7 linked regions of the Homo sapiens genome follow. The gene in region 2 interacts genetically with the main gene of each other region. Each region holds a gene or a part of one and is shown on either strand. Other genes may lie near its edges.

The links.
Region 1: changes in MST1R (region 2) and PRKCA together harm fitness more than expected from each alone (negative genetic interaction), as found in Homo sapiens cells (one large-scale study listed by BioGRID).
Region 3: changes in MST1R (region 2) and ATR together harm fitness more than expected from each alone (negative genetic interaction), as found in Homo sapiens cells (one large-scale study listed by BioGRID).
Region 4: changes in MST1R (region 2) and PRKAB1 together harm fitness less than expected from each alone (positive genetic interaction), as found in Homo sapiens cells (one large-scale study listed by BioGRID).
Region 5: changes in MST1R (region 2) and BCL2L1 together harm fitness less than expected from each alone (positive genetic interaction), as found in Homo sapiens cells (one large-scale study listed by BioGRID).
Region 6: changes in MST1R (region 2) and NPY4R together harm fitness less than expected from each alone (positive genetic interaction), as found in Homo sapiens cells (one large-scale study listed by BioGRID).
Region 7: changes in MST1R (region 2) and EDA together harm fitness less than expected from each alone (positive genetic interaction), as found in Homo sapiens cells (one large-scale study listed by BioGRID).

What each region holds. Positions count from the first base shown.
Region 1 is NC_000017.11:66,802,328-66,806,376, reverse strand, and holds part of PRKCA (protein kinase C alpha type), read right to left. Parts: intron 2,505-4,049; coding exon 2,340-2,504; 3' UTR 1-2,339. UniProt on the Homo sapiens protein: Calcium-activated, phospholipid- and diacylglycerol (DAG)-dependent serine/threonine-protein kinase that is involved in positive and negative regulation of cell proliferation, apoptosis, differentiation, migration and adhesion, tumorigenesis, cardiac hypertrophy, angiogenesis, platelet function and inflammation, by directly phosphorylating targets such as RAF1, BCL2, CSPG4, TNNT2/CTNT, or activating signaling cascade involving MAPK1/3 (ERK1/2) and RAP1GAP.
Region 2 is NC_000003.12:49,897,141-49,901,189, reverse strand, and holds part of MST1R (macrophage-stimulating protein receptor isoform 1 preproprotein), read left to right. Parts: intron 1-1,926; coding exon 1,927-2,115; intron 2,116-2,194; coding exon 2,195-2,323; intron 2,324-2,501; coding exon 2,502-2,672; intron 2,673-2,978; coding exon 2,979-3,139; intron 3,140-3,504; coding exon 3,505-3,670; intron 3,671-3,773; coding exon 3,774-3,910; intron 3,911-4,049. UniProt on the Homo sapiens protein: Receptor tyrosine kinase that transduces signals from the extracellular matrix into the cytoplasm by binding to MST1 ligand. Regulates many physiological processes including cell survival, migration and differentiation.
Region 3 is NC_000003.12:142,557,685-142,561,733, forward strand, and holds part of ATR (serine/threonine-protein kinase ATR), read right to left. Parts: intron 3,738-4,049; coding exon 3,559-3,737; intron 2,771-3,558; coding exon 2,579-2,770; intron 1,758-2,578; coding exon 1,567-1,757; intron 1,093-1,566; coding exon 940-1,092; intron 1-939. UniProt on the Homo sapiens protein: Serine/threonine protein kinase which activates checkpoint signaling upon genotoxic stresses such as ionizing radiation (IR), ultraviolet light (UV), or DNA replication stalling, thereby acting as a DNA damage sensor.
Region 4 is NC_000012.12:119,677,751-119,682,286, forward strand, and holds the end of PRKAB1 (5'-AMP-activated protein kinase subunit beta-1), read left to right. Parts: intron 1-2,182; coding exon 2,183-2,251; intron 2,252-2,497; coding exon 2,498-2,575; 3' UTR 2,576-3,869; downstream 3,870-4,536. UniProt on the Homo sapiens protein: Non-catalytic subunit of AMP-activated protein kinase (AMPK), an energy sensor protein kinase that plays a key role in regulating cellular energy metabolism.
Region 5 is NC_000020.11:31,716,116-31,720,164, forward strand, and holds part of BCL2L1 (bcl-2-like protein 1), read right to left. Parts: intron 730-4,049; exon of another isoform or gene 506-729; intron 1-505. UniProt on the Homo sapiens protein: Potent inhibitor of cell death. Inhibits activation of caspases. Appears to regulate cell death by blocking the voltage-dependent anion channel (VDAC) by binding to it and preventing the release of the caspase activator, CYC1, from the mitochondrial membrane.
Region 6 is NC_000010.11:46,462,828-46,467,534, reverse strand, and holds the start of NPY4R (neuropeptide Y receptor type 4), read left to right. Parts: upstream 1-1,576; 5' UTR 1,577-1,857; intron 1,858-2,802; exon of another isoform or gene 2,803-3,649; 5' UTR 3,650-3,805; intron 3,806-4,707.
Region 7 is NC_000023.11:70,028,522-70,032,570, forward strand, and holds part of EDA (ectodysplasin-A), read left to right. Parts: intron 1-982; coding exon 983-1,017; intron 1,018-1,947; coding exon 1,948-1,999; intron 2,000-4,049. UniProt on the Homo sapiens protein: Cytokine which is involved in epithelial-mesenchymal signaling during morphogenesis of ectodermal organs. Functions as a ligand activating the DEATH-domain containing receptors EDAR and EDA2R. May also play a role in cell adhesion.

The sequences.
Region 1 (4,049 bases), on a different chromosome or scaffold from region 2:
AAGATGGCAGAAGAAATGGTTCTTTTCTGGCCGGGCCCGTTCCCTACCCCGTCTCTCCTTCTACTCAGGGTTGCCAGGACCACCTGGGCCTCTCACCTCAAAAAGCCTTTCATGGTTGTGTGTTCTGTGAACTTCAGGCAAACAGCCAGAGGAGAAAAATAATGCGAGCTTAGCTGGGAGATGCTTCTGGGAGGAAACAGAGCGGCTCTCTACAAGGACTGACAGCTACTTTCATTCTGTTTCTGTTTGTGGTAGAACCCGGCTACTCTGAGGACCTTGCATGGGGGTGTCTCACCAAAGCAGCGCGCTCCTCCCAAGACTGGAAAGGCCAATGCCACAATGGCTGGAAGAAAGTCCGCAGCCTCTGAAAAGCACGTGCTGGTGCCTGCAGGGCACGGCTGTGTTGGTCTCACGAAGTTTGTGCATGCTGGAGCAAACGACAGGTCGTTGCAGAGGCAGCAAGACAGCATGCTTCCTGCGTGTCCAGTACACACAGCAAGAGGGGAGTCTCCCCATCCCTCCCACCCCTGGAGTCAGCAACAGTCACAGGCTGAAGGGAAGAAGGAAACACACACACACGCACACACAAAGGTCAGCCCAGGTGCTGCGGCAATGCCACGTGTGTACCAACGTACTAGGCAGACTGGAATCAGACACTTCCTGTTGTCCCCAAGAGGAAGAGTGGCGGAGGAACCAGGACGAAAGGTGACATGAAGAAACTAAGAGGGAGTGTCAGCTCAAAAATAGTCCTCACCAATAAAAATTTGTTTGCAGGTAGAATCAAATACATATATATACACACACATATGTAGTAAGAGCCTAATCTATCACGTAAACTAGCCATTCATTTTTGAAATTTTATCTACATTTAAAAAGTAATCTATCTGATACAGTGCCCATGTGCAGGGAGGGAAAGCACAGAAGCAAGGGATTCAGCTAAAACTTAATTAGAAAAGAGGATTAGAAACAAGAACCTGCACAAATAGAGCACAATTGTGTCTTATAAAATTATTATAATACTCTCTTTATACTTGATACGATTATATCAATAATATAGATTCACTTGTTATTAAGGTTTATTATAAACATGCAAAATTCATTGCATGATGCATTTGCAAAACGTATTAAAATCCTTCTATTAACAAAACATCTTTGAGCTGTTAGGCATCCGGGTTTCCTGATTCTACAGCTCCAGGCCTGTCATTCAACGTGAACTAGAAATGGGAACCAAAACCATATTCTTTTTATCCCTAAGTGGACATCCAGGGCTAGAGAAGGGAGGAAAATCAATCGGTAGAGGCTGATGCTAGAGTCAGCACTTCCATTAAGTTACTGTACATCGTACTTTCATAAGCGACACTGCAGCCTATTAAATAAATAAGCACAAAAGGGGAGAGGGCGTACACTTCAGCTTCTTGAGAAGGATAACAAGGTAGGCAGCAAAATGTTGGTGTGTGTGGGGGTGGGTGTTGGTGAACAACACTGGTGAGTAGTGGCATGATTACTGATGGCACCCTGGATGGAAAAATAATCTCCCAGAGATTAAAATGAACATATGTACACACTGGCTTATCCTTGATCTGAAATGATTTCACACGCTTGTTCAGCAACGTCCTTAGACGATTTGGCCTCTTACAAAGAATGAAAAGTATCAAGACAGTTATCAACCAAGGAGGGTACCAGATGACAGATTCACCCAACACTCATCTGAGGTTTTTTTGTTTAAACTGGTAACTGCTGGACCATGGTTGGGTTAGGATTTGTCAATGTTTGGGAACAGTGATTAGGTTTATCCCGGCCTTTCAGATTCTAGGGGCTGTTTCCATGGAGGCAGAGAATGGACGCAGTCGGTATTTTGAGGCCTCCCCCACCCCCAATCCCTCCCTGCTCACTCTCTTGGCTTCCTGTTCTTGGATTCCAAAGACGTCTTGGGTGGAGATGTTTCCTGGGACAGGCTCACTTTAACATCTCTGGTTGGGGGATTCCAATGCTGAAAAATCCACAGATGGAGGGTATGGAAAGTATATCAAATTGTACCCAAAATGGGGCAACAGTCTGCTTGCTTTCTAGGAAGGGTTAACCTAGAGCCAGACGTAACTTCTACAGAATTAAACTGGACACTGAGCATGACGTACCATCTTCCACTAAGATAATGTTCTTGGTTGTAAGAGAGAGACCCTGAACAGTTGATCACATTTGGACTAATAACCCTACAATTTTCAGGCCTCCATATGGAATCAGACACAAGGCCGTGGCCTTAAAATTTTAGGGTTAAGGATTCACTTCCCACTGCGGGGAGGGCTGGGGGCTGGGGAGGTGTTTGTTCTCGCTGGTGAGTTTCATACTGCACTCTGTAAGATGGGGTGCACAAACTGGGGGTTGACATACGAGAACCCTTCAAAATCAGACTGGTCTATGTTAGCAATAACCAGCTGATCAGGTGGTGTTAAGACGGGCTGTCCTCGTGTGAAGAACTTGTCAAAGTTCTCTGCTCCTTTGCCACACTGTGGAGAAAAGACAAAAAGAAGGAAAGGTCAGTCAACATGACAATGCGGGAGCAGCTCTCCGAGGGCCCTCTCTGGGGAGGGGCACGGCCCTGGGGAACTCCGGGCTGGTTAGGAGGAGGAATCTCGGAGGACTTGCAGGCCTATTGGATTGAAAAGCCAGGCACAGCAGACAACAACGAGTTACCCAACTGTAAACCCTGAAACACCCCGAACAGAAGCCCTGGGTGGGAATTGCACGGCTGGCAATGAGGCAGCAACAAGGGGACAGCCCCTGTCCCCTCACGTCCACCTCACCGAGCAAGCGGAGCTGAGAGCACGGAAGCCACGCACGCAGGGCCGTCAGTCACAGCTCCGTGTTGAAAGGCCAGGATGTCGGCTGGGGCTGCAGGCAGTTACCCCTGGACCAAGCGACGGGGTGAGTTACTGCCCCACATCTGTTTTTTTGCCGCAATATTTGTAGTGAAGTAAAAACTGTGTTATCCTTGCCTTCCTACTGGGCTGCTCCAGCAACCCCAGCCCCTAAATTAAGCTTCAAGCGATATGAGGTAGGTGTGGCGGCAAGGCTGGGAGATTTGCACCTGGCCCAGCTAGGATTTAGCACACCTAGACAGAGCTGGCCAGCGGGCAGGCTGGGTGACTGACTGGAGCTTATTTGCAGGGTGGTCTCAGGCTGGAGGATGTTTGCATGGCGCCCTGGGGAGGCAGGGAGAGGCCTGCTGTCTCGGCTGTTCCTCTCCTCCAGGGTCCACTCCAGGCAGAACTGTTGCACTGGGGTCGCTGAGACACACAGCCGCTTAGGCAGCACGGCTTGGTAGCCTGACCCCAAAAGTGGGGAAGGAGTGTTCTCTTCACCTTGTCAGCCACCCACAAGGGTAGTGGCGTGTTGAAGTCCCCGGGAGCCCAGGGTGACTCTGAAGCAGGAAGAGCTGGGAGTTTCACTAAGGATCCTAAGAATGATTTTCAAGATGCTGCCAATTACTGCCCTTGGACCTGCTGCTAGCACCACAGGGCCAATATGAATTAACTCTGAGCTAGCACACATTTCAAACTAACCAGGCATCCTTGGGTCTCTAACAGAGAATAGCTCTGGATTAACTGTGAAGTGGGGTCCACCAAGTTTGCTCATCTGTAACACTGGGAGAACAATCACACCTCCTGCCCAAGGCTGTCAGGAAGGTGAAATGTATGGGGTTTTGCACAGAACCCAGCCGAGGCGAGAGGCCAGCACGTGCTGCTAGTGTTTTTATAAGGCAGTTGAGTCTCACGGGCTGTGCTTTCTCAGCTCTTTTTTCACACTTTATCTTCTAGGAGGTGTGCTTGAGAACCTACTTTCGTTTTTTTTTTTGAGATGGAGTCTTGCTCTGTCGCCCAGACTAGAGTGCAGTGGCGTGACCTCGGCTCACTGTAACCTCTGCCTCCTGGGTTCAAGTGATTCTCCTGCCTCAGCCTCCCGAGTAGCTGGGATTACAGGCATGAGCCACCACGCCCAGCGACGAAGCTACTTTCATTACCCTTTTCCCACCTACTTTTCATCAAATAAAA
Region 2 (4,049 bases):
ATCTGGGTTGAGAGGCCCTAGGGTTGGGGACTCCTTGTCTGGGCCTGGGCAGGCCTGCCTGGCCCCTTCTCCTTCCCAATGGGGAGTCAGAACCTCTCCCCAGCTTGCCTAGTGGTCAGTGGGTCAGAAGACACCCAGCACGGCTGGGCAGTGCCAGGCTCCAGGAAGACTAATCTTGGTCCCTGCTCACAGGCTGGCCAGGCCCCCAGGAGGTGTGTGAATCACCCCGTGCAGTGTTTGCCCAGCAACTCTGGGCATGCAGCCACTAGGGCAGCACCCACATAGTGGTTGGCCTCAGGAGGCCTGAGGGACTCAGAGCTGGTGCCTGTCCTCCATGGGACATTGGACACTTACGTGTTTTCAGGAGCTGGGGGCCCCTACCTAAGCCTGGGAACGTAGAGCTAAGGTCCTGGGGCTAGGGACAAGCAGGCTAGGGTGTGGGCCTGACTAAGGTAGGGCTCTATTCCCCTTCAGAGCCCCACCTGTCCCTGAGTCATGCTAGAAACACCTGGCAGCCTTCCGGCTCGGGCCAAGCCAAGCCGATTTCCTGCCTCAAGTGAGGACAAAATCCCAGTCCCCACCCACCCCAAGCTGTAGGCACAAGGTGTATGGGGTTTCGAGGCTCAGCTCCACATCTACTTTTGCCTCCAGGGCTACTAATCAGTGCTGAGGTCTCAGGACTGGGTTAAGCCTCTGTGGTCTGATGGAGCCTTCAGAGGCTCCTGCTTCGAGGAGTGCCCTCCGGGCTGGTGAGAGAGAGTCCTAAGCACCTAGGGCTGGCTACTGAGCCCCGTCTGCACCTCGCACTCAGCTCCAACACCGCGAGTTCATACCCTGGTGTACTGGTTTCCCAGAGCTTCCACAGTCCTCCCCTGGAGCGTGATTGCAGCCCCCAAAAACACCCCCTTGCTAAAAGCAGGGGAGAGGTTAGTACCCCCTAGCTTCCAGAACTTAGTTCTGGCACCCAGGCTGTAGGGGTTTGGTTTATCCCTTTTGTACCCTGAAGGGGGGTATAGGAAGCAGCCAGGAGTACAGGCAGACCTTTGGAGTCTAGGGAGAAGGACCATGTCCCCAACCTTGTGCTGGCCAATTAACTCCAGCATTCAGCCCCTTATGCAAGTGGGGAAACCGAAGCCCAGAGGAGACAGGGTTTGCTGAAGTGCACACAGAGAGTCAGAGAAGAGCCAGCAGGGGGCAGGAGAAGACTCTTGCGGAGCTGAGACTTCCAACTGGGCTCTCCTCTTGAGGGTCTATGATGCCTTGGACCAGAGACCAAACCTCTTGAGCCTGTTTCCTCATCTGTGAGATGTACGGGGTGGGCCAGGCACCGTGGCTCATGCCTGTAATCCCAGCACTCTGGGAGACCAAGGCGGACTAATCACAAGGTCAGGAGTTCGAGACCAGCCTGGCCAACATCGTGAAACCCCCATCTCTACTAAAAATACAAAAAATTAGCCAGGGGTGGTGGCGAGCACCTGTAATCCCAGCTACTCGGGAGGCTGAGGCAGGAGAATCTCTTGAACCCGGGAGGTGTTGCAGTGAGCTGAGATCACACCATTGCCCTCCAGCCCCAGCAACAGTGTGAGACTCCGTCTCAAAAAAAAAAAAAAAAAAAAAAAAAAAAAAAAAGATGTACGGGGTGGTTGTGAGGATGGAATGGGGGTAACTCACCATCAGGATGGGCATGGCAGGGTGGGGCAGGGAGAATGAGGAGTGGACCTTCCAGCCTGGGCCTTCTCCCTGCCCTTGCTACACTGAGAGCCCTGTGGGGGCAATGTGGGATGGTAACCGGCAGGCCCAGGGCCTTCTCCAGTCAGGCCAGGTGAGGGGTGAGAGTGTTGGGCTGCTGTGGCCACTGACAAAGGCCCCAGAGGGTCGGGGCACAAGGCTGAACCCTGACTCCTTCCCTTCCCTGACCTTTCCCAGCCTGGCCTGGAAGCCCTCAGCCCCAACACCAGCTGCCGCCACTTCCCTCTGCTGGTCAGTAGCAGCTTCTCACGTGTGGACCTATTCAATGGGCTGTTGGGACCAGTACAGGTCACTGCATTGTATGTGACACGCCTTGACAACGTCACAGTGGCACACATGGGCACAATGGATGGGCGTATCCTGCAGGTGGGTCCTCATCCCCACAGTCCCCTAGCCCTGGGTCCTTGTCTCCATCCCCATTTTGCTCACATCTGACCTGTCCTAGGTGGAGCTGGTCAGGTCACTAAACTACTTGCTGTATGTGTCCAACTTCTCACTGGGTGACAGTGGGCAGCCCGTGCAGCGGGATGTCAGTCGTCTTGGGGACCACCTACTCTTTGCCTCTGGGGACCAGGTGAGGTGGGCAGGGGCAGGGCCTGGGGCCAGGGTTGTGGGATCACAGACTCTCCATCCAATCCAGGGAGGCATTGACATACAGGCCCTACCACCCTAGCCTACTGTGTACCGGGAGGGTCTATAGGGCCCAATCTCTCCCTCCAGGCACCCCTGAGTCACCTGTCTTTCACCCACAGGTTTTCCAGGTACCTATCCAAGGCCCTGGCTGCCGCCACTTCCTGACCTGTGGGCGTTGCCTAAGGGCATGGCATTTCATGGGCTGTGGCTGGTGTGGGAACATGTGCGGCCAGCAGAAGGAGTGTCCTGGCTCCTGGCAACAGGACCACTGCCCACCTAAGCTTACTGAGGTATGGCTTCCCTGGCAGGGCACAGGTAAGAGTGGGACAGGCTGGGCCTGGGGTGGTGGTCAGCAAGTCTTGATCACAATTTTTCTCAGGTCTGGGGGGTGTCCTTCATATCTACAAGGAGGGCATTCTTGTCAGAGGGGATGCCACATGCAAAGACTTGGAGGCAGGAAAGTGCTTGAATGCAAGTGACTCCAAATGGCTGGAGCGTGGGGAAGGCAAGGGGTATGGCAGGAGACTTTGGGGAAGCAGGTGGGGCTGAGAGAGCCCAACCCCACATGAGGACTCAGGCTGTTTCCCCCATTTCAGTTCCACCCCCACAGTGGACCTCTAAGGGGCAGTACAAGGCTGACCCTGTGTGGCTCCAACTTCTACCTTCACCCTTCTGGTCTGGTGCCTGAGGGAACCCATCAGGTCACTGTGGGCCAAAGTCCCTGCCGGCCACTGCCCAAGGACAGCTCAAAACTCAGGTACAATCTGGTCCCTCCCCTCCCTTTCCCTGAAGGGGGAAACCAAGCAGCCCCTTCCCCATGAGACCCTGTTCTCTGCTTATCAGAGGCAAGGGGGGATGGGGGAAGCTGCAGTGGTTCTGACTGCTTTTTGAGAGTCAAAAAGGTCTCTGTCCCTTTTTGAGCTTTCATGTGCCCTTCCTGTCTGTTCACTCATGGACCAGCCAAGGTTAATCTCTGCCCCACCAGAACCTTCCTTCCATGGAGGGAGGCATGGGTGGAGAAATGCCATTCTCTGGCTCAGAGGAGCCCTGTGGCTTGTGGCAGGCATGCATCTAGGCCTGTGTAATTCCTGGCTGACCTCAGGGGTTCCCCTGGTGCCCCAGACCAGTGCCCCGGAAAGACTTTGTAGAGGAGTTTGAGTGTGAACTGGAGCCCTTGGGCACCCAGGCAGTGGGGCCTACCAACGTCAGCCTCACCGTGACTAACATGCCACCGGGCAAGCACTTCCGGGTAGACGGCACCTCCGTGCTGAGAGGCTTCTCTTTCATGGTGAGGCTACCTTGCCCTGTCTGTGCCCTTGGCCAGTGCATGGTACGGGAAGGGAGGGGCTTGGAGTGGAGGACCTGCCTAAGCCACCTCTATGTCCTCTTAGGAGCCAGTGCTGATAGCAGTGCAACCCCTCTTTGGCCCACGGGCAGGAGGCACCTGTCTCACTCTTGAAGGCCAGAGTCTGTCTGTAGGCACCAGCCGGGCTGTGCTGGTCAATGGGACTGAGTGTCTGCTAGCACGGTAAGTACCACCAGGCAGGCATGGGAGGCCGCAGGGTTCTATCCAGGTGGGGACCCGGATTCTGTCAGGATGGAGGGAAGAGTGCTTGTTACATGGTCAGTGTGGTGTGGAGAGCAGGTCCAGGAAGAAAAGACTACTG
Region 3 (4,049 bases), about 93 Mb from region 2:
TGCAGGGGTGCAATCTTGGCTCACTGAAACCTCTGCCTCCTGGGTTCAAGAGATTCTTGTATCTCAGCCTCCCTAGTAGCTGGGACTACAGGCGTGAGCCACCATGCCTGGCTAATTTTTGTATTTTTAGAAGAGATGAGGTTTTGCCATGTTGGCCAGGCTGGTCTCAAGCTCCTGACCTCAAGAGATCCGCATGCCTTGGCCTCCCAAAGTGCTGGGATTACAGGCGTGAGCCACCGTGCCTGGCCTAATGTTTCTATTTCTTAAACTGAGAAGTTGGTATAAGAATTTTTGGTATATTGTTCTTCTTTTTAAAATATTTCTCAAATACTTCCTAATTTTATTAAATGAAGATAATGATATGTAAGGACACATTGCAAATGTTTTACAAAAAGAAAGGAAATGGGATATGTGGGGCAGGCTTTTATGTGTTACTTTTTATGTATCTAACCCCCTTCTGAACTATTAAAAATGTACCTGCTCTTTTAATTATTGAAAAAAATATAAATAAGTCTTAGAAGTCCTATATAGAGATGAGTTAAAACAAACCACACAAGGCCAGGCATGGTGGCTCACGCCTGTAATCCTAGCACTTTAGAAGGCTGGGGCAGGTGGATCACTTGAGGTCAGGAGTTCGAGACCAGCCTGGCTAACATGGTGAAACCCCGCCTCTACTAAAAATATAAGAATTAGCTGGGTATGGTGGTGCGCACCTGTAATCCTAGCTACTCAGGAGGCTGAGGCAGGAAAATTGCTTGAACCTGAAGACGGAGGTTGCAGCAAGCCGAGATTGCGCCACTGCACTCCAGCATGGGCGACAGAGTAAGACTCCGTCTCAAAAATAAATAAATAAATAAATAAATAAATAAATAAATAGATAGATAGATAGATAGATAGATAAATAAAACAAACCACACACACATTCTTGTGAGCACTTACAATAGCTATCTGAAATCCTACAGCTTAATGTTAGAAGATTAGCGGCAAATGTGGTCAACTTTAAACAGCCATCATCAGAATGGGAATAAATCCATGGAAGTGAGAGCATACCACATAAATCTTCCAGGATATGATCTTCAAATGAACTGTTTACTACAGAAGCACAAAATAAGTCATTAATTATAACTTTTCCTTAATCATATCTCTTTTAAATAAAAATAAAGACATTTGAAATACTATCATAATGATCATTGGATAAGCAGAAATTCTTAACACAGAGATCTATAAACGATGGTCTGAGGTCTGTGAACCCAAAGAAATTAAATGTGACTTTATAAAAACATGTTATCTATGCCTGTTTTAAAGAAGAATCACGGCATTCCTCAAACTCCCAAATTAAAAAACTTTGAAGTTATAAATAATTTCTATTGACTAAAGAATCAAAATATTATGCACATAAATTGGCAACTCAGAACTTCTATTATTGACAAATTTAATAGAACTGAAATCAGGAAAAAACTTCTGAGTATTCCAAACACGCACTTAGGCTTCAGGCAAAAAAGAAAGCATATTTCTATACTGATTATCTTTAAAGGTTATTCTGATCTGTTGCTAATTTGTACTCACCTTGCATATAAATCAAAGCATCATAAATTTTCACCACCTTATCAATGGTTGCCTCCAGGTCCAGTTTCTGAACAGATTCTAACAAACTTCTACAGCTCTTAAGCACTTTTGTGTAAAAATCCAATGACATCCAAGTTATCACTACAGAAGGTTTCTTCTTGGATTTATGTTGACAGTCCTTGAAAGTACGGCTGCAGTAAGTACATTTTGTTAAAAACATTGGAATTAAGATGAATTTTGTTATAGTCAAACATAAAATTGTAGTAAAGCCAAAAGAAATTGTGAGTACGAAATTTATCTATAACAATTTAAAGTAAACATGCAAATCAAGTAATATGTTATTACTATTTTAAGTTGAATCTATTTATGTCAGCTTAAATCACCCTTAGGATTTGGGAACCAAATGACTTTGGGAGCCTGAGGTGGGAGGATCACTTGAGCCCAGGAGTTTGAGACCAGCCGGGCCAATATAGGGAAACCCATCTCTACAAAAAAAATTTTTTCTAAATTAGGGTGTGGCGGCACATGCCTATAGTTCCAGCTACATGGGAGGCTCACTTGAGCCCCGGATAGAGATCAAGGCTGTAGTGAGCCATGATCATGCCACTGTGCACCAGCCTGGGAGACAAAGCGAGACCCTGTCTTCAACAGCCAAACACTGGGTTTTGAGTTGTACACAAATGTGTTCTGGTACTTTCTAATCATGTGTCCCCAGGAAAGTCAGTTTTGGCTTCAGACAAAAAAGAGCCTCAGTTTCTCTGAGTGTCAGTTTCTAATTTTTAAAATAGGCATAATAGCCTTTACCTTACAGGACTATTGTAAATATTAACTAAGATATATACAGTGCTTAGCACCGTACCTAGCATTTGACTCAATAGAAAATAAATTTATTAACTACTTCAGTGAAAAGTTTGTGTTCTAAGGTTACATGAGTCAAGTGAATAATGAGTAAACAGTAAATCCAAGTTCATTACAGGAAACCCAACCCCAAGAAACAAGAAGTTTGTTTTACCAGTTCATGTTTTGATGAGAACAATGAACAGTACACAGAGCAGTCAGTTGTAAGACAACAGCAATTCCTTCTAACATCTCAATAACAGGATTCTTTAGGCCACTGTATTCAAGGGAAATCTGAAGGGATTCAGCTTTCTGTTTCAGTGCACTCCATAATATGCTCTTTTGGTTCATGTCCACATGTTTAATTCTATAATTATGAATATAGTAGAGAGATATTCATATGCAATATAAATTTGGTTAAAACATGAAACATATTTAGAATAAAACATACTATGTAATATCAACTATTCAAAAAAATTTTTTTTTTTTGTGAGACAGAGTCTCACTCTGTCTCCCAGGCTGGAGTGCAGTGGCGCCATCTCGGCTCACTGCAAGCTCCGCCTCCCGGGTTCACGCCATTCTCCTGCCTCAGCCTCCCGAGTAGCTGGGACTACAGGCGCCAACCACCACGCTTGGCTAATTTTTTGTATTTTTAGTAGAGACAGGGTTTCACCGTGTTAGCCAGGATGATCTCGATCTTCTGACCTCGTGATCTGCCCGCCTCGGCCTCCCAAAGTGCTGGGATTACAGGCGTGAGCCACCGCGCCCAGCCTGAAATTTATACTAAGATTTAAAACAATTAAAACAATGTTCAGAAGTAACTGAAATATGGCAACTTAGCCACTTTATAAAAAATAGTTGGTTAATGTTTTAAAAATTGCTAATAGATGCACAGTCTCAAAGATTTTTCACATATTAAAAAGTTAAATTAGATAAGCATATAAAAACATGCAAAGTAACTATATTTAACCATGAAATGTTTTATACTACTAACCGTCTACAATAATTATAAAAATATTTTAAGCACTCCCTTGGCTACATTTAGAAAGATGTTCTTTGTGTATTTAAATCAAAGCACTTAACTAAAGCTGATTTTTAAAAGTGAACAAAGTTTTATTTAATGGCTAAATACAAACTGAATGAAGGTCATCATACTCCTCAGTCTGTTTTGGTGCTCTTTTAGAAGGGTTTAGAGACGAGCTGAGACGACGCCTTTTGGGTGATATTCCATCACTATTACTGCTGAGGTTTTCCTGTTGAGTTTGGCATTGAATCTCCTCAATGATTTCCATACTTTCCATTTTCAAAGCTGCATAAAGTGGGCCCAACAAGTACTGAGAAAATAAAAAATAATTTCCAGAAATATTCCTTAGAAAATATATTTATATTATTCATAGGCAGCAAGAATGTATTAGATGTTAGGTGTTTTCTAGTGAAACTACTTTTAGAGTCTCATAAAGCAAAATAAACATCTAAATTGATCTATATTATTTAAGTCTATATATAGACTATGGTTCTATAGTCTTAGAAGGTTTAAACAAATCCTTCTCTCTACATCCTGTTTTTCCTCTTACCAAAATGCTATAAATTTTAATTCCCTTATAAAAAATTCTGTAAGGGAATTACCAACTTTCTTCATGTAACTT
Region 4 (4,536 bases), on a different chromosome or scaffold from region 2:
AGTGAGGTTTGTTTTTTTTTTTTTTTTTTTTTGAGACGGAGTCTTGCTCTGTTGCCCAGGCTGGAGTGCTGTGGTGCCATCTTGGCTCACTGCAAGCTCCGCCTCCCGAGTTCACGCCATTCTCCTGCCTCAGCCTCCCGAGTAGCTGGGACTACAGGCCCCCGCCACCACGCCCGGCAAATTTTTTGTATTTTTAGTAAAGATGGGGTTTCACCATGTTAGCCAAGATGGTCTCGATCTCCTAGCCTCGTGATCCACCCGCCTCGGCCTCCCAAAGTGCCGGGATTACAGGCGTGAACCACCGTGCCTGGCCAGGTTTTGTTTTTTCTAGAAAAGGGAGGCATCACTAGCCATCTTCTCTGATGGAGACTGCTGCTGGGAATAGACAAGCTGAGAGTGGCCCAGGGGGCTGGGAATATGAGAATGTCAGGACCCCTCTGTCCAAGGTAGCACTAAGCTCTAATGTAAACTGTGGTTACAGTTGTCACTACTAAAGGGTTAACATTTATTTTGCCCCAAACTAATCTTAAGTGCTTTTCGTGTATTCTTATTCAAGCCTCACAACAACCATGTGAAGTAGGTGCAATTATTACCCCCATTTTAGGGATGGGGAAACTGAGGCACAGAGCAGTAGGGAGAACACTTAAAATCTACTGTCTTAGAGATTTTCAAGAATACATTGTTACTAATAGTCACCGTGTTGTACAGTGGATCTCTTGAACGTATTCCTCCTGTCTAACTGAAATGTTGTATTCTTTGACCAGCATCTCCCTACCCCCACCACTCCTAGCCGCTGGCAACCACCACTCTACTCTCTACTTCTGTGAGTTCGACTTTCTTGGATTCCACATAAGTGACATCACATGGGATTTGTCTTTCTGTGCCTGGCTCATTTCACTTAATGTCCTCCAGGTTTATCCATGCTGTCACAGATGACAAGATTCCTTTTGTAAGGCTCAGCAGCACTGCATTGTGTATCAGTACCTCATTTCTTTATCCATTCATCCATTGTGGACACCTACGTTGATTCCACGTCTTGGCTATTATGAATAGAGCTGCAGTGAACGTGGGAGTACAGATATCTCGACATGCTGATTTCATTTCCTTGGAGTATCTACCCTGTAGTGGGATTGCTAGACCATGTGGTAATTTTAGTTATAACTTTTTAGGAACCTTCATGCCATTTTCCATAATGGTTGTACTAATTTACATGCCCATCAGCAGTGCACTAAAAGTAGCTTTTAAGTGTTCTCACCACAAAAACATGGTAAGCATGTTCTGCGTGTGTTGATGAGCTTGATTTAGCCATTCCACAATGTGTCCATATTTCAAAACAACATATTGTACATGGTAAATATACATAATTTTATCTGTCAATCTTTGAAATTGATTAATTTTTTAAAAACCCCTCTTAGGCTCACACAGCAACTGGCTGAGCCAGCAGTCACATCAGGCTTGGCTGGTGCCAGATCCTTGGTAGTTGGTGCTCTCAGCAGCCACCCTGAATGGCCTCCCAGCGGGAGCTTGCTGAGTATTTGTTGACACAATGATTGGCCCAGCCTCTGGGATCCTAAGCCTACAGCAGTTGTTCTACACTTTTTTCCATTTGAATTGCATTTATAACAGTTGGGGGTATACAATGAAAAAATAAATCCCGATTTCTGGCTTCTCTTAAAACATAGGAAGGTGCGGCGGGCAGCTCTGAGTGCCAGCCCGGTGGCAGATTTTCCAGAGTAGTGGTGTCTTGCCCAGGTATCCGTTTCATTCTTCAGGTTCATTGAGTCTTACAGATACAAGTTTTGAATCCATTGCTCAGGAGCGTTTAGTGCAGATGGTCTCTTCCTGTGTTCTCTGAAAGTGCTGTTAATAGCTGCTTTCTTCCTGCCCCACCCTCCATAAGAGGACAGGGCCGTGGCCCACACTTGAAAGAGGCCGGGGTAAATGCCTGGCCAGAGACACACACCGATGCCTCCAGCAGGCATGCAGGGAGCTCCCTTCAGGTCAGAAGGCGTGACCTTCATCTCACCTGTCGTCTTGGACAAGCCCTTGCGCTGCCTGATTTGGGAAGAGAGGTCGGCCTGAGCGCTGCCTCCTGTCCTTTGATATCTGGCACTGGGAAGTAAAGGGGAGAATCTTGGTTTCCAAATCCCAAATGCTCACCGCTGCCTTTGTTCCCTCACAGTGTGATCCAGCTTTGCTTCCTGAGCCCAATCACGTCATGCTGAACCACCTATACGCGCTGTCTATCAAGGTAATGACATGTCTGTCCCCATGAGAGCTGTGTTGCCCAGTGTGTGCTCTGAGGACCCCCAGCAGTGGAATGACCTGGCGGGACTGACTTAAAGGGCAGCTTCCAGGGTCTGGCACAGGCCATCAGGCTCAGGTTCTGAAGCTGGCCCGGGAATTTGTGGTTTTATGAAGCCCTTAATGATTCTCATGTCCTCTGAGGCTTGAGCCCCTTAGTCCAGCCTTTGATCATTTCCACCTTGTTCCTTAGGATGGAGTGATGGTGCTCAGCGCAACCCACCGGTACAAGAAGAAGTACGTCACCACCTTGTTATACAAGCCCATATGAAGAGCTGGGGGCGGATGGTGGCCCAGGAGACAGCACACCACCAGGCTCCACACGTGCATGCTTTCCCCAAGAGGGAATGGACTGTACATTGCTCATTTCACACTCTTCAGAAGACATTTCATACCTGCCCTGGTCCTGCTTGAAGGTTTGTCCAGGCAGAGCAGCTCCTGCAGCGCCTCGGTCTGTGACAGTCCTCCTAGCACCCCCATGGCTTTGAGCCTCGGGGACTCATCAAGTCCAAGAAAAGAGGGAGGGGTGGCAGAGGATCTGCAGCCCTGGCCCCGCGGTGCATGAGGCTGGGTGCAGTTCTAAACCTACATTCTCGATTTTTCTTAAGCCAAAAATGAATGCTAACTCCTTTGCCAGTAAAATTCTGGGAAACAGGGACTGAGGCCACACATCATTTCCAGTCATCTGTGTGTTTTTAAGGCCAGCCACTTGTCCCTGTTGAGGCCTGGCTATGGAACTAAATACAGTGTTGGTCTTGCCTGTCCTTCAAAATCAACAACAGATTGTCTCTCGGCTCCAGGGAGGTGTCATTTCTATAGAAATTAGAAGCTTTCTGATTTCTAGATGAGGTTTTACAATTGTTTCTTACAGTCATGTGCACTAAGTACTCTTTTTGTAAGCAGAGGTGGCTGGCTCTGCAGCCTTAAGGCCATTTTTTAAGTCACCACGTCTAGAAGTCACATGAACTCTGCTCAGCAATAATCTGTTCTCAGAACAGACTTTTCAACCTGCTGCCGGATTTCTCCATTCAGCTGGATGATCCTCAGGACTGACCAGTTAGCTGGCAGGTTGTCCAGCTTTTTATTCCAGTCATAATAGGTGACAGTGTTAACCGTGAAAACTTGAGAGGCACTCTGCCCTCTTCCCTATAAAATCACACAGCGTGATTTTACAAGGTCCCGTGGCACCTTGCTCAGGACCTCTGCCCCTAGTTAGCAAGACTGCAGCAGTTGCTGTTGCTTATTCTGAAAGGAATGTAGAACTTGACAGCAGCCTTCTGAGTCTGGGTCAGGAAGATGTCCTTTGGACCAAAGCAGACTTCTTTATACGCAGCTCAGTTTCCCGGGAGTCGCCACAGATGTACCCACTAGCCCAGGTTGCTGTGAGTCAGCGGAAGCTCCCGTTATGCCCTTTGCTCCTGGTGGGAGAGGGAGGAGTGAGCTCCCTGGGTTCCAGTATTTACTTGGTATACCTGAGTTTGGGGGTACCCTTTTTTGTGACTTTTCAAAACAGTGAATTACTGTCACCTTGATGGACAAGTTTCAATAAAACTTTGTAAAAATAATTGGACATGTGCCTGGAGGAGCTCTGATTTTATTCAGTCCCTTGGAGAAGAGACTGGAACTCTTCGAGAGTTGCGTTTCAGTACCGTTCTTGTGGCTCTGAGCGGACAGGGCTACTCCAGCTGCCCAGGCCTGAGAACCAGTCCTGTGACTCACACCCATTCACACAGTTTGGAACCTTAAGGGACCCCTAAAACTGAGCCCCTCTGAACAGCTCAAGTCACAAGGGGAAGCTGAAGAGGGGTAACAGCAGAGGCTCCTGGCTTCGGCCAGTTGTTGGTGTCCCCAGGCCAGAGGGTTTGTTTCCTTTTGCTCCTAAACAAGCCCGGTGGGACAGCCTGGGATCGTGACCCTGGCGTGTGAGAGAGCAGGACGTTGTGGAGTCAGAGCTGTTTTCATCCACTAAAAGAGGCCGTGTCCCTCCTCCAAAAAGGTGGAAGGTTATGGGTGTTCCTTTAAGCCTTCTCAGGTATCAGGAAACATTTTAAATTTAGCAGAAAAGCATGCTAATGAGCTCTACCCACTGGTGCAGAAAACCCAAGCTGAAAATGCTATGTAAAATAAGACTGGTTTACTGGAGCCAGTCACCCCATGAGTTCTCCAAGCCCTGGGGCCACAGGGGACTTCCAGGTGAGGTCACTGCTGAGATGATGGAGGAGACACAAAACA
Region 5 (4,049 bases), on a different chromosome or scaffold from region 2:
CCTTCTTTGAGCCTCATATTTTGTAGGATTCCTGTGTACAACTATGTAATTAATTATTTTTCCTCCAGTTAATCTGTCTATGTCAATTTAATTCTCAGCCCAGCCAAAGGACCTAGAAGGGTAGAGGAAAGCCATTTTTTTCTCCCTTACACCTTCTTTGATCACTCTTTTAAAACTGCAGCCCCACCCTCCCTTGCTAGACATGCCCTATGCCCCAACCTGCTTTATTTTCTTCATAGCATGTACAATCATCTGATATAAACATGTAATTATATATTTATTGCCTGTCACTCCTCATTGGAATGTGAGCTCCATGAGGACAGAAACTTAGTTTTGCTTACTTTTGTTTACTGCCATACTCCCAGTATGGTACACAGTAGGAGCTCAATAAACATTGTTTGACTCAACGAATGAATTATTAGGTAAATAGCCACTCCCATTATTGTTATTCTGGCTTGACAAGGGTCTGTTTCTTCAGAAATTTAGTGGGTTTCTCTTCAATTAGGTATCTGCTATGCCCAAGGCCTCTGCTCAGTGCTGAGGAAACAAGCATGGACAAGATGTGGCCTCCACCCTGAGGAGCTCCTAAATCTAGGACAGAGTAAATCTGTTAGAAATGTCTTCTCTGCACATAATTTAAGCTCTACCAACTGTTAACTTCTTTTCATTTATCCAAGTTTTGCCAGGTACCACACCAATAAAAAAAGACTCAGTCCCTCTTCCTTCAGATATCTGAAGCTGGTGATATTCTCCTGGGTCTTCTCTTCCCCAGGCTAAACAAAAAGACCCAGTGGGATTGCCTGACTCAGGTCTGCCAACTGGGAACAAGGAAGACAGACTGTCGGATAGAGGGGCAGAAGAGAAGAGGATCCAGGAGTAGAGTGACTCCTTCAAAGAAAAAAGAGGGAGTCCTTAGGGAGGACTCTGTGGAATTAGGTTGGAGGTTGGGTGGGGACAGGGCCTCTGCTTAATTAAGGCAGTAGGAGATTATACTTCCGTAGAAAAGCAGTACACTGGGAATTACCCCTATGTCTATCCACATTAAACTCAGGCAAAACCACAGTTGCTTCAAGAAAGCCCCATGATGGAAGGCTGAGGGCACTGGCAAAACCAGGGAGACTGGACACAGAGGAGGACGCTCAAGCCCACTGGCCTCAGGACAGATATCTGCTGGGGGAAGGGACAGAGATAACAACTGCTGTTTCATGCAGCCCAAACAAATCTGGGGACACCCATACAAAAGTCAAGAAAACCCTCCAGGTTCCATTGGAGCCCCCTGAAAAAATACCCGGGTAATTTTCGACAGAAGCTAAAGGGCTCTGTGGGGCTACTGGGGAAATTATTCCTAGGAAGTCTGGAAAACCCTGTGATGGTAACAGAATTTTAAGAGCAACCTCAAATGTACACTCAGAAGAAGTAGGTGTTTCAAGGGGGAGCCCCTGAGACACTTCTACTTAATTTTGGGACCCGAATGAGATTACTAAAAATTTCCACATTTGGGGTTTCTAATGGGGTTTCCCTAAGAAAACCACAGAACTGCCACTATCTGCAAAGGGAGCTGAGGTGCTTCAACTAAGCATACATCCATCTGAAGAAGCCACATTAGGCAATAAGAGATCTACAGAAACTCAGACCACTGAGCCATACAGCTTAAGAAAGGCCAAGTTATGTTTTCTCCCCCAACACAGTTCATTGCTCCCAACAATTACGTTTCTATCAGGCTAAGGGATTTCTTCAGGGACAGCAATCCCAAAGTGGCAAGGCCCACCTGGGTCCCTTCCCACATTCCCATTGGAAAGCACCAGAAACACTTGTGTCCCTTCGGGGAAGGTCATGTATACAACATTCCAGGAAAGTATCACAGGGACTTTGTTTCTCAAGGAGAAACTCTAGGGGGAAGAGTCAGTTCTCTGAGGGAAGCTGCCCATTCATTAAAGGGTTTCCACCCTACAATTATGGCAGGAGAAGGGCTTTTGTGCTAGATCCTTTACTCGAGTCAAGCTATGGCAGCTGGCTATCATTATTCCATTTTACAGGCGGGAGAGACAGATGGACAAGACAGCCGAACAGGTTCAGCATTTCATCAGGTGACTCCAGGCAGGCAGTAATCTGGCTAAGGGTCTACACTTTCAGTCCTTGAAGCATCACTCCACCACTAAGTAGAGATACCTGGGGCAGGCCACCTTCTCCCCACACGCACACCACTGTCATCTATTGGCAGGGCCTGAGAGGGTTTTAACAATGAAAAAATTGGCCGGGGCCAGGCACGGTGGTTCATGCCTGTAATCCCAGCATTTTGGGAGGCTGAGGCAGGCGGATCACCTGAGGTTGGGAGTTTGAAACCAGCTTGACCAACATGGAGAAACCCCATCTCTACTAAAAATACAAAATTAGCCAGGTGTGGTGGCGCATGCCTGTAATCCCAGCTACTTGGGAGGCTGAGGCAGGAGAATCACTTGAACCCGGGAGGCAGAGGCTGCAGTGAGCTGAGATCGCGCCACTGCACTCCAGCCTAGGCAACAAGAGCGAGACTCCGTCTCAAAAAAAAAAAAAAAAAGAAAAAATTAATAAGCAGCTCACTCTGGGCAAAACCCTGATGCCCACTTGAAACCTGCCATGTCTGAGTTTTACCAGTGCCAGAATCTGAGGCTACCAACACGCCTCTGGGAACCTGCTACTGCCAACTATCCTTCCCATAGCTACCTGAACAAAGCCAGTTATCAGTCCAGAGTGAGCACCTTCACAGGCATGGTTTGCTTGGCCCAACAGCATCTCTGGCTTTCTGGGCCAGCATGTCTAGGTCACTTTATTACTCCCTGGACAACTTGATAGGATGAAAAGTGTTGGCTTTAGAATTATGCCAACCTTGGTGTAAATTCTCATTCAGACACTTAACTGGCTGAGGGACACCTGGGGTCAGTCACTTAGGCACAAAGACCTTCATGTGTAAACTGGGAATAAACTCACCTTCCTTGGAAGGTTACTGTAGAATATATGAAACAGCATGCCGTTTCCATGAAGGAAGGTACCATGCGTGGCTTATGGCCAGCACCTAGTACACTGCTAGCTTCACAGTAGATGCTCAAGAAACACTGGTTGCATAAGTAGAGGACCTAACACAGTGCCTAGTACTTAACAGGTACTCAATAAAGACTAATTTCCTTCCCCTTTCCTGTAGGGATGCTAAATTTAGAACATAGCCCTGAGTAGAATAGCCCATAACTCCTACCCTTAAGGATCTCCCAGCCGCAGTCTCCAGGATAATTACCCGATGCCACCACAGTAGCCAGTCGGTGCAGCTTGGAACAGGATAATACCTGAGAGGAAGGGGGCGGGTACCTTCTACCCAGGCTCAAAGGATCCTGAGTCAAATGTTCTTTACTCCCTGGCCTTAGGGAGAGAATGTGTGCTCAGAAATGGTTCTGATATAACTGGCTCTTCCACACACATCCCCTCTGTTCACCAAGAGGAAGTGACATGTGGTATGTTGTCCAACAGGCTCTGATGATTCTTAAGCAAAGAGATGGAAGATGGAATTTCAACCCCATGGAGATCTAATAAACTTACCCAGAGTTGCTGTGTCTAAGACCTCTTTCATATGCACCACTGGGCAGCTGGCAATTCTCTGGTAGGGGTAGCCTTCTGCAGAGGCTGGCTAGCAGACCAGGCACCTCTCCCAGACTGCCTTTTGTTTATAGCTGGCAACAACCCACCTGGTATTAGGACCACTGGCCAAAGACAATAGTCAGGCAAAGTGGGCAAGCAGCCTCAATCCCTACTTGGAGATGCCTCAGAGGGTGTGTCTGCAGTACTGGAATCCTGTCCCTCCTGTAATCAGCTGAACAAATATTTGCCCCAAAAGAGAATCAAAGCAGGAGGGAACAGGAGAGGTCACTGCACAAACCAACAGGAACTATTTAATCATTTATCCCCCTAGAGAGTTCATTTACAGAATGGCTTTCAAGTCTAGTCAGCTAGCTCAAGAGAACCCACCACCTTTACCTCCCCTGACCCCACCCCAGTTATCTGACCTCTATTGACTTGACCCC
Region 6 (4,707 bases), on a different chromosome or scaffold from region 2:
CCAACTAGGCTGCTACATCTGCTTCTGCAGCAGAGCATGGGAGGGTGGTAGGAATTTGTCATGGCAGCAGGGACATCGGAGCTGGGGTGCAACGGAGGAGCAGCCGCTTTCCAGGTAGTCAAGACAGGAAGGAGCATGGTCCAGAAAGAAGAGATGACAGGTGCCAGTCTACAGCGATGGTGAGCAGAGGCCTGGGGGCTTGGCAGGTGGGTTCGCATCCTGGATCTGGCTGTTTCTTAGCTGAGTGACTTTGGGCAAGTTGCTCAACCACTGAGTGTCACTTTGCTTCATCAGCACGATGGGAATAAAAATGCCCACCTCTCAGAGCTGTTGTGATGATTAACTAAGGTAGTGTCTGCAGAGTCTCTGCACTACAAACGGCAGCTGCCATTCTAGAGGGACCACTGCCATGACTTCATGGGGACATTTCCATGGGGAGCCACAGGAGGTTCACTGGACAGGTGTGTATGTCCAGTGTTTAGGAGGTGCTCTTGAAGCAGATCTGTTACTCTCAGGAGGTTCTCTAAGCGCATATGTGACTTTGCCATGTGGGGATGGGGGGCAGGGAATTATAAGCTAGTGTATTCAAAACAGGAGCAGCCCTTGTAAGCAAAGCTGTTCCATTATAGCCAAGTCATGTGCATCTCAGCTCCAAAGGAGAAAGTGACCATTCTCATTGAATTCTCATCGCCACAACCTTGGGACTGCCTGAGATAAGACACTCCACTTCCAGGGCCCACCCTGAGTTTTCACTCACACCCTGGATGCCCATCTCCTTCCCTCACCCTGGCTGACATTCTCAGCCACACTGCCCTCCCCTGGTCTCCAGGGGCTGAATGCTCCCAGCCTCAGGGCTTTTGCCGTGGCTGTGCCATCCATCTGGCCTATCGAACCCATTTGCTCACAGCATCTCACCCCCTGTAATAATTTATTTCCCTCTTTCCTTGTACCCTGTCTGTCTTCTCCCCCAGGGCTGAGAGCTCCAGAAGGAACCAAGGACAGGGAGCCTGTCTTGTCCAGCTCTGGTGCCCAGCAGGAGAGCCAGGCTCATAGGAGGTCTGCAAGTAATGTTTCTGGACGAACTTATGAAAGGCAGGTCTTTTTATACCCATTTCATGGATGAGGAAACTGAGGCAGAGAGAGAGAGAGACAGGCAGACGCACACACCCCTAGACAGAGAGAAACACTCCTGGAGAAAGAGAAAGGGAGGGAGAGAGGGAGGGGGAGGGAGGGAGAGAGAGAGAGAGAGAGAAAGAAAGAAAGAAAGAAAGGAAAGAAAGAAAGAAAGAAAGAAAGAAAGAAAGAAAGAAAGAAAGAAAGAAAGAAAGAAAGAAAGAAAGAAAGAAAGAAAGAGAGAAAGACAGCGCAGCTCCAGCCTGCCTGTATCCAGGGTTGAGGTGGGCGTGAGAGACACACGCAGGCAGGGCTGCAGTTCCGGGCAGGCCTTGGGGGCTCAAGATGCGGCTCCCCAGGGCGAGTGCTGGGGTCCCGGGGCAGGCGGGCGGCTGGAGCCCTCTCGTGGGCGGGCGCAAGGGGCAGGCTGGGCGGGCGCAGGCGGGAGCGTAGCAGCCGCTCCACTCCGCACGCAGGCAGCATCGGGGCAGCAGGAGCAGGTGAAGCAGGCGCGGCTCTGCCCCGCGCCTGGTGCCCCCTGGGCACAGGAGTGCGGCCGGGGGCGGGGCCGAGTGGGCCCCGGTACGAACCCTCCGGGAAGCCGGGCGCGCTGCCTGCCCTTGGCCCGGGGCGCAGAGCGTCACACTGGATCTGGGGAGCATCCTACCCCCACTGTGGACCTCAGTCTCCTCACCTGAGACATGGGCGGCCCCATCCGCACCCTGTAAGCCGCAAGCCAAGGAGGTAAGGGGTGCATCTGAGGTGTCTGGGCGCTATGGGCATTAGGATATAGTAGCTTTTGCTGAGATTTCAGGAGACAAAGCAAAGGGCCTTCCCTATTCTAACCCCACTGGGAGATTAGCATTGTGTGTATGATTCATTAATTTTCCTCTGATTGACTGGGAAGGCAGGCTGCAGGGGGTCCCTGTTGGGGCTTGCAGCTGGTTCTAGTTTTTGTATCTGGAGAGCTGCCTGGGGACAAAATGCAGAGACACCATTTTATTGACCTTGCGTAATAATCTACCCTCCCCCTCATACACTCGCCACCCCCTTGGGTGTGCCTGAGGGACTTGAGGTCCCCTGGTCCTCACTGGTCAGTGTACCCCAAGCCCAGCAGCCCCAGGCAGATGCCCAACACCACCTTTTCAGTGCTCCTCCTCCTCCTGTCTTGGCCCTCTCTGCCAATCCATTTTCTATATCCAAGTGATCTTACTGGAATGGACCTGACCTTGCTGGTCTGGCCCACCACTCCAGCTTCATCATCTGCCACCCTGGAACCTCTTATTCTGCTTACTTTTCCCAGCAGGCTCTGCTCCTTCCTGCCTCTGTGCCTTTGCACATGCTGTTCCTTGCACTTCGAGTTCCCTCCTCTCCCTGTCCCTTTGGCTGGTTGACTCCTCTTCAGCCTTTGAGCCCTGTACCATTGCCACCTCTTCTCTCACCTCCCTGCTCCCTGCTCCTTCTCTGATCTCTCAACTCACAGGCCTCTCTTTCATATTGGTGTTGGCAATGGCAATGAGTTCCATCTGCATTCGTGCTGGTCAGCCCCTCTGCTCTGGGAGGGCCATGACTGTATAAGTCATCTTTGCAGCCCTTGTTTCTAGCCCAGGGCTTGACACACACTTATTGAGTGGGTGAATGAAGCAGTGAGCATTTTCTGGAGCCCTCCCAGCCCAGTCCTTCCACTCTGATCCTGCTTTAGGTGGTTGGTTTGGGATGAATGGTGTTTCTCCACACCACTGGCCAAGCCTTGCTGATGGTCACCCAGAGCCTTGGGTTCTGGCCCATTTGCTGCTTCTGAGTGCAGTGCCTCTGCCACAGGTTCATGCAGCTGCGACTGTTCTTTATCTTATATTGGGCCCTGTGTTTGGCTCTGGAATAGTTTATTTTGCCATGTTCAGCCCCAAATGGCCCTTTTTGCCCGAAGACCATAGTGCTGGAGAAATCTTCCTGCCTTCGAGATCTGGTTCCTAAATAACCAGACTGTAAACTATCAGGTGAATTCACAGCTTGATCTTTTAAATGACCAAATGAGACTCTTTTTTTTTTTTTTGAGACAGAGTCTCGCTCTGTTGCCCAGGCTGGAGTGCAGTGGTGCACTCTCTGCTGACTGCAACCTCCGCCTCCCAGGTTCAAGTGATTCTCCTGCTTCACCCTCCCATGTAGCTGGGACTACAGGCATGCACCACCACACTTGGCTAATTTTTGTATTTTCAGCGGAGACGGGGTTTCACCATGTTGGCCAGGCAGGTGTTGAAGTCCTGACCTTAGAAACTCATCTTTATAAGTAGATCAGATGCACAGCAAGTGACATTCATGACAGCCGACAAATAGATTTTACTGAGCTCTGGTTGATTTTGGCCTTGTGCTCTGCAAAAACTGCCTTAACATAGCAATTGATCATGTAAAAAATACATATGGCCATGATATGAGACTTAAAGAATATCTCAAATAGGGTTTTCTGCTATAGTGTTTTACAAGATGGGGTCCAAGGGCCATGTGCATCAGAATCACATAGTCTACTTGTTAAATACAGATTCCTGGCCCCCATCCTGGATTCACTTAACTACATCTCCTGGTGGAAGGGCCCTGGGATCTGCACTTTCAACATGCTTCTAGAATGATTCTGATGTTTACTGAAGGTTGAGAACTGCAACCCTGTGGGATTAATAATGACTAGAGAATCTGAGAGGTGAGTCACAATGATGTATGTAGTGGTATGGTGCTTCCCATGCAAAACATCCATCATTGGCACTAACACGGGGGAACTCTGGAGTCTAAATTCCAACTCAGTCTTGGCAGGGGGTCCGTTGTGCTGAGGAGGTCCTCGGAGAAGGGACAGCCTGTACCAGGGCATAGAGATGTGGAAGAGTCTGGTGTGCTTGTGAGCTGCACACTGCATCAAGTGACTTGAACATAGTCATGGAGTAGGTTCTGTGGAGGGCACTGGGCACCTGTGACTTTGGCCAGGTATGTCTGTGCACATGGTGGGTAGTAGGAAGAAGCTGGTGTGCTGATGAGCCAGGCTTTGCATACTGGGCAGTCTTCAGTTTTGCCAGGTATCACCTAAAAAACAAGGCTACCAGGGCAGGGAGGGGCTGAGACCAGGAGGGTGCACTGATTGTGGATCCCCGAGGCTTTAGCTCTATCTTGAAGGGAATGGGGTGCCGTGGAAGGACACAAGCAATCCTGTGCAGAGTGGCATTTATTGCTGTCTCCATTAAGATAAAATGTGACAAGGGGCATTCTACCCATGTTCCCTGAACAATTCCGTCACTAAAGTCTGCATACAGCACTCCAACTTCTTTATCATCAGAACAGCCTCATCCTGAGGCCGGAGGGAATTAGTAGAACAAGTTCTGGCATTAGATGACCTGAGTTTGTAACTGGGCCCTGTTACTAATTAGCTGTGTGACTATGGGCAAGTTGCTTTCCATCTCAGGGTCTTAGATTCCTCATCTATGAAACGGATTGATAATATCTACCTCTAGGAATAAACTAGCTAATAGACGAAAGTGCTGAGCACAGTACCCAGCATGCAACAAGTGCTTCTAACAAGGTAGCAATCATTGGATGCCAATGTCTCACCATAAG
Region 7 (4,049 bases), on a different chromosome or scaffold from region 2:
AAGTGCTTTTCCCATAGCAAGTAGTCACTAATGGTCAAGAAGTTAGAAACTTAAGAGTCACTCAGGCTGTGGATGAAGCAAACCCAGGCACCAAGGCTGTCCTGTCCGGGAACCAAGTGCTTCTTGCACTAGATCCTTACCCTACCACACTTGCCATTCAAATGTCATTTCATCCCTTTGCATCTTTCTCCTTAAGCCCTGAAGGGCATCCGAAAGGTATGAATGCAGATCCAAACCTGCCTAATTGGAGTTGACAAGAGTCAGACTGCCTGGGCTAATGTCAGTTGTTATTTCTTTCTCCTGCTCCTCACTCCCCTGCCCTGTATCTTGGGGCTTTAAAGAAATGGACCCTTACAGCTGATTTCTCCAGGGGCAAGAATTCTGCAGCAGGATTCAGATTCTTTAACTTGTACTTCACACAGGGCTCAGCAGTGTTACCATGGCCACAAGAGATGGAGTTAGAGATTTTTTTTCAACCAATCATTCCTTAAATATTGAGCACTTTCTGTATACAAAGAGATATATTGATACATGGTCCCTTTTCTTATAGAGTTTATCTCCTAGAGGAAGAGAGAACAAAGAAACAAGATATTTACAAATAGCAGTGGGCTCTATGAAGAAAATTAATAGAAAGGGAGCAAAACACTAGAGAAGCCAATGCCATTGCCTCAGGGTCACACAGTGATGGGAATGCTCTCTCATTGTTCTCCATGGGTGCCCGGTGGGGCTTGCCTTGGGCTAATATTGGCCAGAGGCAATACTCAGAAGTTTCCCTGCTGGGTGCTGGGCCCACTGAAGATGAAGGTCAGGGCAGGAAACAGAAGGGGTGCACTCTGACTCTTCCTCCAGCTCTGAGCCCTGGAGAATAAAGCTCAGACAGGGCTGGCTGCAGGGAGCATGGCTCACCACCACTAGCTGCTCAGGTGAGGGGAAAAGGAAGTCAAAAGATTATGCCCTCTGATTGTCCTATCCTATTTTGCAGGTGCTGCTGATAAAGCTGGAACTCGAGAAAACCAGGTTGGCTGGGGATTGCTCTCTTCCTGGGTAGGAGGGAAAGCCACAGGCTAGAGCCACCTTTAAATTAGCTTCTTATTAGATTTCCTGAGGCTTTATTTCATGAGAACACCCCGGAGATTCTGACGGTTTTCACTCACAGCCCCCTCCCATCTCTATGAATAGAAAAGCTTTGCCCCAGGGCATGTTTTTAGCTAAGGAAAGGGTGTCTTGCCAGGATCATTTTTCCTCATTCCACAGGAGACCCCAGGTTCACCATAGCCAGGCCCAGTAGTCAGCTGAAATAAGCTGCCAGTCAGACCTATTCACCTGAGCCTCCAACTCCCCAACCACCCCAGACACCTTGCCGGCTCTCAGACCACCTGGGATCCGGAGCTGAAGAGTTGAAGAGTATGTCCTTGAAAAACAGCCAACCAGCTCCAGGCCCAGCCTAGCCTGGGCGTCTGCCTTAATGGCCTGAAGAGCTCCTCCCAGTCTTTGAGCTTCCTAATCTGTCTCTATTGGCAGGTTCTACTGCCTTGCCTTGTCTCATCTCAGCCTCCCTTGCTACAGCTGTGTGGCCACAGTGATAAATCTACACAGCTGCACAGTGCTTGACGGCTTGCAGGGCAATTTTATATCCATCACCTCATTTGATCTTCAGACATCCCTGTGAGAGAGGCCAGACATTCTTATAATCCCCATTTTACAGTTAGGGAAATGAGGCTCAGAGGCATTACATTTGGTTGAGGTCACATAGCTAGGAAGCGGTAGAGCTACAAAATCATATTACCCTCTAGTAGAAATGTAGTCAGTAACATCCCAAGACAGGGGAGAGGGATCAGAATTGGATTACAATAGAAGACTAGAAACCAGGATGGAAACATGGGACTGGTGGCTGAGCAAGCAGCCATTACTCATAGTGACTACTCTCTATCCTTCTCATCCTGCCAGCCAGCTGTGGTGCATCTACAGGGCCAAGGGTCAGCAATTCAAGTCAAGAATGGTAAGAATCAAAATAGGCTCTCTCCCAAAGAGGAGCTTCTCCCCTGCCTCCTCCCCAGCCTCCAAATAATCACCCAGCCTAGTTCCTCCCAGGCCGCTGAGGTACCGTTGGCATACGAAGTCATTCTTTGCTCCATCATGCCCTCTACTGGCTGTCCTGAGCAATTGCTGGCATCAAGACCAGTTGCTACACCCAAATTGCTTTAGAATCACTGATGACGGAGCTGAAAGGGACTTGAGACATCATCTAGCCCAGGCATTCTCAGGGGATGGAGGTTATATCAGAGCCACCATGGAGATATGTGTAGTTAGATTAATATTTTCACAATACAAATTATAGAAAGTAAAACTATGTAAAATTAAATTTTTCTTGTCTGATCTACACAGGTGGGCAGACAGGCTGCATCTCTCAGGGAAGGTGGGGCATGTTAGAATCTCCAGGGAATTTAAGATGCTAGTGTCTATCAAAAAGGAGAACATGTTTAATGGGGTTAAGAAACACTGATTTGTTGTAATCCCTGCATTTAAAAGATGGGGAAACAGAGTCCCAGAGAGATTGGATAATACCATAATAAATCATGCTGTCTCATATTTGTACGATACTTTAGAGTTCTCAGCATACTTTCTTTGTCTTTAATTTCATTCAGTCCTCACAACCACCCTATGAGGTAGGTATGAGCTCCTTTTTACAAGACAGAAAGTGAAGTTCAGAGAGATTAATTAAGTTTCCCAATATTTCTTAGTCAAGTTAGTTTAGGAGCCAGGATTCAAAACTACATCTTTCTGACTCTTTCCTCTCCCCTGTGCTACTTCAGTGATATGTATGTACACTCCACTGAATGATTAGGTTCATTTTCTTCCCCCAAAGAAACATGAACATTCATGAAAGAACAGCACTTTGGAATAATGTCCAGTCCCCAGAGTGCACAAAGCCTAAAATGCGTGAACCCCCAGGAGCCTTGGGAAGCAGCAAGCTAGCCAAGATGCCAGATGCTTACAGAGCTTGGGGTGGAAGGGAGGGGTTGTGAGTACAGAAACGGTAAAGGAAGGTTAAAAAAAACAGCTACATGGGGACAGTTTCTAAGAACTCAGTCAGTCCTGAACTGGCTGTGCTGAGTTTCCTTAATGACTGTATTTAGCTACTTCCCTGACTGCCACCTCCATGTCTGACTTAGTAGCCTCAGAAGTGTAAATAGGAACACAATGGCACCAAAACCCAATTGGTCCTGCTGGGGACCCCAAGGCCCTGAGTGGGCCATGATCCCCACCTGTCCAGGGAGGCCAGAGACAGGCCAAAATAGATTTGTTTGGATATCTAGATGGATAGTGTTTATTCTGTGCTAGCAGCCACTGATTTTGCTCCCACTGCCACATAATAAGATTGTTTCCAGCCCCTCTGGGCCAATCCTCAGAGGTGGTCTGTGCTGACCTTTAGTACTACCAGAAGAAGTGATGGGGGTGGGGTGCAGTGACTCACACCTGTAATCCCAGCACTTTGGGAGGCCGAGGCTGGCGGATCACATGAGGCCAAAAGTTTGAGACCAGCCTGGCCAACATGGTGAAACCCCGTCTCCACAAAAAATACAAAAATTAGCTGGGCATAGTGGCACACACCTGTAATCCCAGCTGCTCGGGAGGCTGAGGCAGGAGAATCACTTGAACCCGGGAGGTGGAGGTTGCAGTGAGCCAAGATCACACCACTGCACTCCAGCCTTGGTGACAGAGTGAGTGACAGTCCATCTCAGAAAAAAAAAAAAAAGAAGAAGAAGTGATGGGGTCAGGGGTTGGAGGACGTCATGCAGAGTGGTCCATTGATGGGACAGAGCCAGGGCAGCTCCTAGCCCATCTACTTACCACCTCAAGGAAAGATGGTCACCTTTTCCAGAAAGGCTGTTTCCTCACCCCTCAGACAGGCAGGCCTACTGAAACTGGCCAAAGATGGACTTATAAAATATAATTTCTTGGGTGCAGGATGGATGGCTTAGAGGGGAAAAGGCTCCCTGGGCTTGGATGTCCTCCTCTCATGGTGGGAAGGAACATTCCTCTTTCTG